2 separate regions of the Homo sapiens genome follow, and region 1 is linked to region 2. The links come from fine-mapping of genetic effects on gene expression. A gene starts in region 2. The other region holds a variant in brackets. All regions are shown on one strand. Distances are between the middles of the regions.

Region 1 (4,391 bases), 32 kb before region 2:
GCAGCCTCCAATTCATGGGCTCGAGGGACCCTCCTACCTTAGCCTCCCAAGTAGCTGGGACTACAGGTGCACACCACCATGCCCAGTTAATTTTTTTAAATTTTACTTTTTGTAGAGACCAAGTCTTGTGATATTGCCCAGACTGGTCTTGAACTCCTGGCCTCAAGAGATCCTCCCACTTCTGACTCCTAAAGTACTGGGATGTGCCTTCCGAAATGCATATGCCACTGTGCCTGGCCAGCAACCTGGATTGTAATGCTGGCTTCTGTCTCCTTAACTTGCTTTTACCAAACCAAACCTTCTCTTTTTGTTAGGCTGTGCAACCACAGTGCTGGTGACAGGGGCAGGAGTTGGCGAGATGGTGCTGCAGATGCTGGTTGGTTCGGTATGTGGGGACCTGTAAGGGAGAGGGGAGCATTTGGGGAGCACTCCTCTGACAGGTGAGAAGATGCAGATAGCCACCTTCTGAACTCAAACTGTCCCTTTCCTGAGTCTCCAGCAAAGCCAGCAGGGCCCCCTGTGCCGTTGTTACCTGTTTCCGTTTCCAAGCCAGCCCTGAGAGCTGAGCCTCCATATGTGGGATCTGGAGATGTAAACGGATGCATGGAAAAGTCCAAAGCAAACACAAGCCATGTCTGGGAGCAGGGCCAGAGGGGGCCCGTGGGAATGCTGTTTAGCTCTCAGAGCCTGAGATGGGTTGGAACTGCAGTCAGAGTTCTTTTTCCATCCCTTCGGAACCCACCACTCCCTACCCCACCTCTCACAGCCTCTGGCCACCCTGCAGAGGGCCCAGCTTCCTGCTCAACTCCTGCCCTGACCGAGAGGGCCAACTCTTCCAGTTCTATTCAAATCCACCCATGTTTCATTTATTCACCAGGAAAAAAAAAAAAACAACCTAACATCTACTTTTTATTGAATACTATAATGTAGATATTATTCCCCTTTTTACAACAGAGGACACGGAAACTCAGATGAATTTAGCAACTTACCCTAGGTCAGTCACACTTCCAGAAACTGACAGAGAGGACCTCACATCTAGATCTTCCGGCCTCCAAAATCTCCCTCATTGTGACTCCATTCTCCTTTCCTCCTCTTTTGCCCTGCTGGAGGGAGGGGAAGAGCTGCATCTCACCATACCCTCCTCATTGAAATGATGTGACATCTGGGACTTGCTTTAGTGTAACCTAGTGCAGAAAAGAAGTGCAAGGCCACCAATGAAACCGGTGCTGACTGCTAAAGTTGAGTGTTGGGTTCATTGGAGCTCCATATACTACTTTAACATGTTTTAAATTCTCATAATAAAAGAGTAAAACAATATATCCTCTGCAAAGTTCTGGTTAGGGCTTATGGGTATAGAAACACCTAGTATGACTGGAGCTTCAGTGATGATAGAGATCGTCAGAAGGTTCCAGAACACAGAGCTGCAAGGGACTGCAGGGGGTCACCAGGTCCAGTCCCTGCCTTAGAGCAGGACTTCGGCCTTCTCCAGACACATCAACTTGAAACAAGGCCAAGGCCTCCCTCCTCCCCGTGATTCCATCTCTTGGTGTGACGGGCCTCAACTTAGCTGAAAAACCAGCCAAGGATGGAGAAGGCTGCTTCCTCCGATACACCTTCCACGTGAAGTTTTAATTGTCTGTCTCTCTGTGTTTTCCCCTTTGGCAGATATTCCAGGCTCAGGGCAGCTATAGTTTCCTGGTCTGTGGCGTGATCTTTGGTTGTCTGGCTTTTACCTTCTATATCTTGCTCCTGTTTTTCCACAGGATGCACCCTGGACTCCCATCAGGTAAGGAAAG[T/A]ATCTGTTTCTACACAAGAGGAGGAAAACAGAGCCGGGGTCGGGGAGCGGGGGAGCAGGAGATGCTATGGATCTTAACGTGCCAGAAACGCTGCTCTGTTCCAAGTAAAATGCAAGGAAATGTTTATTTTTCTACAGCTTCCTTTTCCTCTCTTCCTGCTTTCCATACGATTGTCTGCGCTGGACTCTTAAGATAGGCGAGAGCTGGGTCGGCTGACTCATGGTTTCTCCATTAGCAGAGGGGTATGGATTGTGAACTTGGCTTCCTGCATCCCACCATGTCATGGGACCATGAGCCAAGAATCTCTTTCCAGCCTGTTCAGGGAACTGAAAGGCAGAGCCCGACTCCTTGGCTGGAACTCAGCCCAACGGCCTAATTGGCCATCTCTTTGCAGTTCAGGATTTTGATTCTAGTCCAAATCTTTTTTTCAAAAAGAAGTCCTTCAGGCCAAGTAGCAAAGAAAGTCTCCTTCAGGGCACAGACACCTCCTAAGAATAGTCTCCCTTCTAGAGACCCCAGGCAGGGGGAGTCCCAAAGCAATTTTCATAACCCTGAGCCCTTACCTGCCCTTTTGCCCACTGCTTTCAAAGTGCCCAGGGACTGCATCGGCTGTGTGCAAAGCCAGTTCTTAAGAGAAGGTGCCCAGGCGGAGACTCTGTCCTCCCTATAAAAAGCAAAATCATCACAAAAAGACTAAAGGAACAGGCATTCACCATCCGCTCTCAGTGGGTGAACATATCTACGCTCTAAACGCTCAGTACAAAGGCCCAGAAGGAAAGGTGGCCCCCAAAACAGCACTAACTATAGCCTCACTTCTGAGACAGCAGTACTGGTTGCACACACACAGGAGTTTCATTTAAGACCTACATTCAATTAATATTTGCTGAACATTAAATGAATAACACTTAATGGGCTCCTTATTCATGGGAGACAGACACATTCCCCAAGCCCTAGACAGCAGTCTCAGGAAACTGCCTCCACCAACTGTTCGCCAGAACTAGGGGGTCTGACTTTTCACTTTGCTCCCTCTAGAGCCACAGAATGGCAGAGAAACAAACAGCCTGGGTAAGCTCTCAGAATGAATCATCACTGCAACTCATCAGAGCTGCTGAAACATGCTACCTGTTTTGTTTTTCTTTTGTAGTTCCTACCCAAGACAGATCAATTGGAATGGAAAACTCTGAGTGCTACCAGAGGTAAAACTGGGTGAAGAAGGCAAGAGAAGACTTTCAGCCTCTTGATCACCAGCACGACCATACTGTTTCAGAAAGCTGGGTGGTGGTGGAGGCGCTCTCTCAATGGCTATTCAAGTCTTCTCCACTAAAACTTGGTTGGGTAGAGGAAATTAAATTGAGTCCTGGTACCTGGTCAAAATCATTAGAAGTTTACCTGGCTTCTCAAGTTATCTTCTTCCCTGGTTCAGACTGTTGGTAAGAGCTGTCCAGATACCCAGATGGGAAGGAAGGAGACAGCCGCGCGCTTCACTCCATTTGTCACCTCATGCATGGACCATACTCTGGGTTTGAGATCATTCTTCATTGAAGTTTGTAAAAATAGGTTGAAATTGTAAAGCTCCATGATCATTGCTATATGTAGATATATTTCAATTTAAGCAAAACAAGCTGCAAGTTATTCCCTGGCATGCTCAAAGGATTTTCGTGCTTTTCACTTAATAGTCCAAAGTCTCTTAAATTCCTGCTGCAGACATCAATAGCTTATCTATATTCTCAAACACCAAAAGGAAAAGTTGAATCTTGCTCTCTTTGGTATACTAATGTAGTGGTATGCTAAGCTGGCTCATACCAACTTAGAAAAGCTGATTGTAAAATTTTCATTTTGACAGCTGGTTATTAAATGCAGCCATTATTAAAAATCAAATCATACAAACTTATAATTAAATCAATTACATTTAAAACAAAGGTAATAAATATTCAAAGCATATCACTTCCTAATTTGATCTTGATGCTCTTGAGGTAATTTACGTCCATGGTACCTGTGTGGTGGAATTACTATATATGATGGTGTGCTACTGTGCACCTTGTCTCAACTCCACTCTTCGTGATAGCATGTTGGTAGCTTGAAATCAGCCTGGTGGGAGTATTACCATGGACACTGGCAAAAGCTACAGATCCCGGAGAGCCAGTGGTTAAACATTTACCAGCATACCACTGCTAGTAATCAAGGCTAACTGGTCCAGAAATCGCCCAGGAGAATGAAATGGATGTTCCATTTTTTTCTACTGACATTGACTAGCATATAAAAGGTATAGAAACAGCACTAAGACTTTCTGAAAATACCTAATGAAAATTTTACATCTTTTTTTGTTTTTGTTTTTGTTTTTGAGACAGAGTCTCACTCTGTTGCCAGGCTGGAATGCAGTGGCGTCATCTCGGCTCACTGCAACCTCCGCCTCCCAGTTTCAAGCGATTCTCCTGCCTCAGCCTCCCAAGTAGCTGTGACTACAGGCGCATGCCATCACGCACAGCTAATTTTTTGTATTTTTAGTAGAGACGGGATTTCACCGTGTTAGCCAGGATGGTCTTGATCTCCTGACCTCATGATCTGCCCGTCTCGGCCTCCCAAAGTGCTGGGATT
Region 2 (4,391 bases):
AAAGCAGCCAACGTCTTCTTACATAGTTAAGTCAAAACTCTTCATTTTAGTTTCAAAAAGTGTGGTATTAACAATGATCTTCAATGATTTCATCAGATATAAAAGAGAGCTGGCCGGGCACAGTGGCATACGCCTACCATCCCAGCACTTTGGGAGACCAAATCGCTTGAGGTCAGGGGTTCTAGACCAGCCTGGCCAACATGGTGAAACCCCGTTTCTATTAAAAATACAAAAATTACCTGGGCGTGGTGGTGGGCACCTGTAATTCCAGCTACTAGGGAGGCTGAGGCAGAAGAATCATTTGAACCCAGGAGGCGGAGGTCACAGTGAGCTGAAATCACACCACTGCACTCCATCCTGGGCGACAGAGCAAGACCCTGTCTCAAAAAATAAATAAATAAAATAAAAGCTAAAGAAAAAAAATCCCCTAAGACAGTTATTAAAAATTATGTGGTTGCTTCATGCCTGTAATCCCAGCACTTTGGGAGGCCAAGGGGGGAGCTTGAGCTCAGGAGTTCACGACTGGCCTAGGCAACATGTTGAAACCCTGTCTTTACCAAAAATACAAAAAATTAGCCGGGTATGGTAGTGCGTGACTACTCGGGAGGCTGAGGTGGGAGAATGGCCGGGAGATGGAGGTTGCAGTGAGCAGACACCACATCACTGCACTCCAGCCTGGGCAACAGAGTGAGACCTTGTCTCTAACAAAAACAAAAACACAACAAAACAAAACCAAACAAAACCTTTTATTCTTGTTACCTATCAAAAAAAAAAAAGAGGCTAATTACTTGATTTTCCTTCTTACAGGAATCCCGAGTTTTCCACAATTGCAATTTTTAAAGTTTAAAGTTATAACAAAGGAAGAAAACACTTAACTGGTCCAAATGAAGGTATTTGATTTTTGAGGGGGTAAAGGCTGAAAACATAATTGATTCTATTTTAACACTTCAAAGATAGACCAATCCCTGTCCTAAATTGAAAGGGAGCATGTTGAAGTAATGTATTAAGGAAAGGAAGTCTCTATTAAATAAAACCTTTTCCACCCTAAACATGTTTATAATACACACAGTCCAGTTGCTGTGGTGACCCATAGCCCAACTATTTTTCAGAGACAGTAGCTAAGACCCAAAAAAACACAAAGTCTCCAAATTTTCTTCAGCCTGCTACTTAAAAAACCAAGTTATGAATGTATCAAGCCTAGTTTCGAATCAAAATACTCACCGTTGTCAAAAAGTAACCAAAAGTAACATGACGTTTTTAACTACACAGGCTCCTAAAAAATACTCTTTGTATAGGATCCTGCACAGTTCTTACAATATTCTTACAATAAAACTTAAAGACACTACCTCACTAGGAATGAACAGATTCCACTTACGCAGTTTTAATGTTTAAGTAAAATCAAAGAGAAGAGTGTTCCTGAAGGGAAAATATTGAATCATACTACATTTTAATGAAAACACCGCTGCCAAACCTAAATATTGAAGCACCAAGTTTTCCAAGCCAGGGGGTGTAGGGGGTGGGAAAAGACGACAGAGGATCTGATCTATCAACCAAAGAGATGGACAAACCATTCTGATGAGGCATAGAACTCCAGAATCTTTATTTAAATTCCCCAAATTTCAAATAGCAATAGCTGGAGAAAAAGTGAAGTGTGTACTTTTGACTACTTCAGTCAACAACATCCCTATTTCCTTCCAAGGCCAGTTACTATCCCGCCCCGAAAGATGTTTCCAATTGATCTTCCCAGGAATGAAGTTACCAGCCTCGATGCAGCTGTGCACAAGGCGGAAAGTAAAGAGGGGCGGGGGGCCGCTGGAGCGAAAGAGAAAAAGAAATGAAACTCGACACCGGATGACTAGCGAGCTAGGGGAGAGGAAGAAACGCGGACGGCCGCGTGTGCCCTACAGGAGATCAAAGTCTGGGGGAAGAGGTGCAACCTCACCGGGCCTTGGTAAGCACTGAATTACTGTACTTTCATTTTCCAACTTCCTGTCACTACAGAAAATGAGAATTGCTCCCCTCCTCCCCATCCACGCCGAAAAAATCGCCGCCACCTTTCGCCCACGAGACTTCGGGGGACCAAGAGGCGACGAGAGCTGAGCGGTGCGCTGCGGCGTCCACCTGTGCGCCGCGGTGCCCGGCGGGCCGGGGGCGGACCCAAGGGGAGCGCGCGCGCCCGGCCCCGGCCCCCGCCCCCACTTCCTGTTGTGCCGCGCGCCCCTCGGCCCCCGCCCCCGCTCCCGGCCGGTGGGGCTGTGGCCGCGAGATCCCGAGGGGGCGCGCGGGGCTGACCGCTCACCGACGCCGCGCGCGGGGCTCCCCCTCGGTCTCCGCCTCGAACACGATGCGCCTCTCCGCCCTCAGCCTCCTCCTCACGCTGGAAACTCGAGGACGGCGCGGCAGCCGCTGCGACCCCCGCGGCGGAGCCGTAGAAGGCGGCGGCGGCCAAGCCGAGCCCGCCGGGTGCCCGCAGCCGCCCGCATCTCCCGCCGCCGCGGCTCCTGGCGCCCCGCCCTCCCCGCCCCCGCACGCGGCAGCGGCGGCGCGGGTCTTGGGGCCGCTACACGCCGGGCGCGCGCGTTCGGGGCGTTCCTTGCAGCGGCGGGGCCTGCCAGGCCCTCCGCGGCCGCCGCCACTCTCAAACCCCCCGACTGCTCCTGGGTCCCTCCCAGACGCCGTAGTCGCTACACGTCACTTCCGGGGGAGGGGCTGCGACCCTAAGGGGTGTCGTGAGCCGCGTCTGCCAGCAAACCCGGGTTTGGTGTGGCCGGGGGATGTAGCTCGGGCGCCTCCTGGAGTCGTCTCGCCGCTCTCCGTCGCGTTCGGTGCGGTTGCTTCCAGGTCCCTGAGGCGCCCGTCCGGAACCCGCCAGGACCCAAGCTGCCGCCTGGGCCGGGACCTCGGACTCCTCAAAGGCGCGCCACTTTCTCCTCGGTTGGAGGGAAGAGGTGGCGCTCGCAGAGCAACCTGCGGGGGACCACTTCTGTTGGTGCTAAGCTTTGGGGAGAGTCTCCTCCCTCCTGTGTCCCTCGTCCTCCTTACCACTCGCTGTTAGAAGTTGGGGCCGTCACAGCTTTCTCATCGAAGTGCCAGATCCCAGGACACTACAAACGCTTGATAAATACTAAATTAGCACTGTGGCTTTCTAGCCTGGGGACTGACAAATGGAAGCGCTGGAGTCGTGGGAAAAGCTTGCCCTGACGATGGAGGCAGCGACCAGAAATCCATTCGTGGCTCTACCCCTCACTAACTCACCAATTTTAAGCAACCTTAACCTCTCTAAAACAGTCATCATTTATAAGGTGGAGAGAACCCAATCTTAGAGTTGTTGTAATGATTAAAGAAAATAAGGTGCATGAAACACCTAGCAAGAGTTTCTAGCTTAGAGGTTCTCATTAAGTAAAATTCTTAAGGAATCAGGTCACACTTGATACAAGAGGCTACTTGAGCAGTTTAGCACCAGAAGGAATGTAAAGTCATAAATTAGGACAGCTGAACAAAACCTCCAAGAAATAAATTAGGTGTTTGTTTAACAAGAAACCAAAGAGAGGTCAGTGTCTGAGTTACTGGTTATTCGAGGCCATTTACTAGCTGTGTGACCTGTAGTGAGTTGCTTAACCTTTCTGGACCTCAGTTTCCTCATGTAAAATGACGATAATGAGCAGCATTGCTGAGAGGATTAAATGAAGTATAGAGCATAATGTACTTAGTGCATTACCTAGCACATAGTAGATACCCAGTAAATCGTGGTGTCATTTATTTTTGCCCCCACAATTGAATGTATAGTTAATTGAACTCACTGAGTGAAATGTGATTCTGTCATCCTTTTGTAGGCTTTTGGAAGAGAATCATCACTTCCTTGATTTCCAGCCTCCTCTTCCATAATACAGAGTAATTATAATCCACAAAGGTAGCTATTCCTGTAAAAACAACTCTACCAAAAGATGTTACCTTTCCAAAATTAGTTTTACCAAAGCATGCAAACATATTAAGACATGTTTTATAAGGAACATGCAGTATCTGAAAAGCACTAGCAGTCTTGGCCCCTAACATAAAATTTTCCTTGCAACAAGTTCCATCTTGGAAACCAAGAAAAAAAAAAGTATTAAGGTAGGCTGTTTAGGATACACCTATTGGAAACATTTGTTTATAAAAAGATTTCATTTTAAAGCCCCCTACCAAGAACAGTTAAGGGTTGTGGAGATCTGCACACTACGCTGCTCTGTTCAAACTGGCAGTAAACATCTGATTCGGCCTTAGGGCCAGTAGTTGTGTCATATCCCTTTTAGACTGAGCTTACGGCATTGTCAATTGCAGTGTATTTTTGGAAAACAGCCTGCTTTGGGAGTTCTTAAATTAGTCATAGCAAATCTGTCTGCTTTTAAATTGAC

What was found. PIP is the estimated chance that this variant, and not a neighbour inherited with it, causes the effect. A credible set is the group of variants that fine-mapping cannot tell apart.
Region 1: its variant is the best candidate, but not a certain one, in a credible set for the expression of ELK4 in whole blood (TOPMed, PIP 0.74).

What each region holds. Positions count from the first base shown.
Region 1 is chr1:205,597,466-205,601,856 of GRCh38, forward strand. It overlaps SLC60A1 (solute carrier family 60 member 1), which reads left to right. Exons shown (of 10, transcript NM_181644.5): 8 at 315-385; 9 at 1,666-1,786; 10 at 2,941-4,391. The coding sequence ends at 2,996. Among named protein-coding and RNA genes, the nearest start is that of SLC60A1-AS1, 30 kb to the left of the region's middle. RefSeq lists an enhancer at 2,500-3,699. The variant T/A (reference allele first, on the strand shown) is at 1,797.
Region 2 is chr1:205,629,333-205,633,723 of GRCh38, forward strand. It overlaps ELK4 (ETS transcription factor ELK4), which reads right to left and starts at 2,679. Exons shown (of 5, transcript NM_001973.4): 1 at 2,300-2,679. RefSeq lists enhancers at 1,727-2,146, 2,757-3,066 and silencers at 2,157-2,346, 2,437-2,586.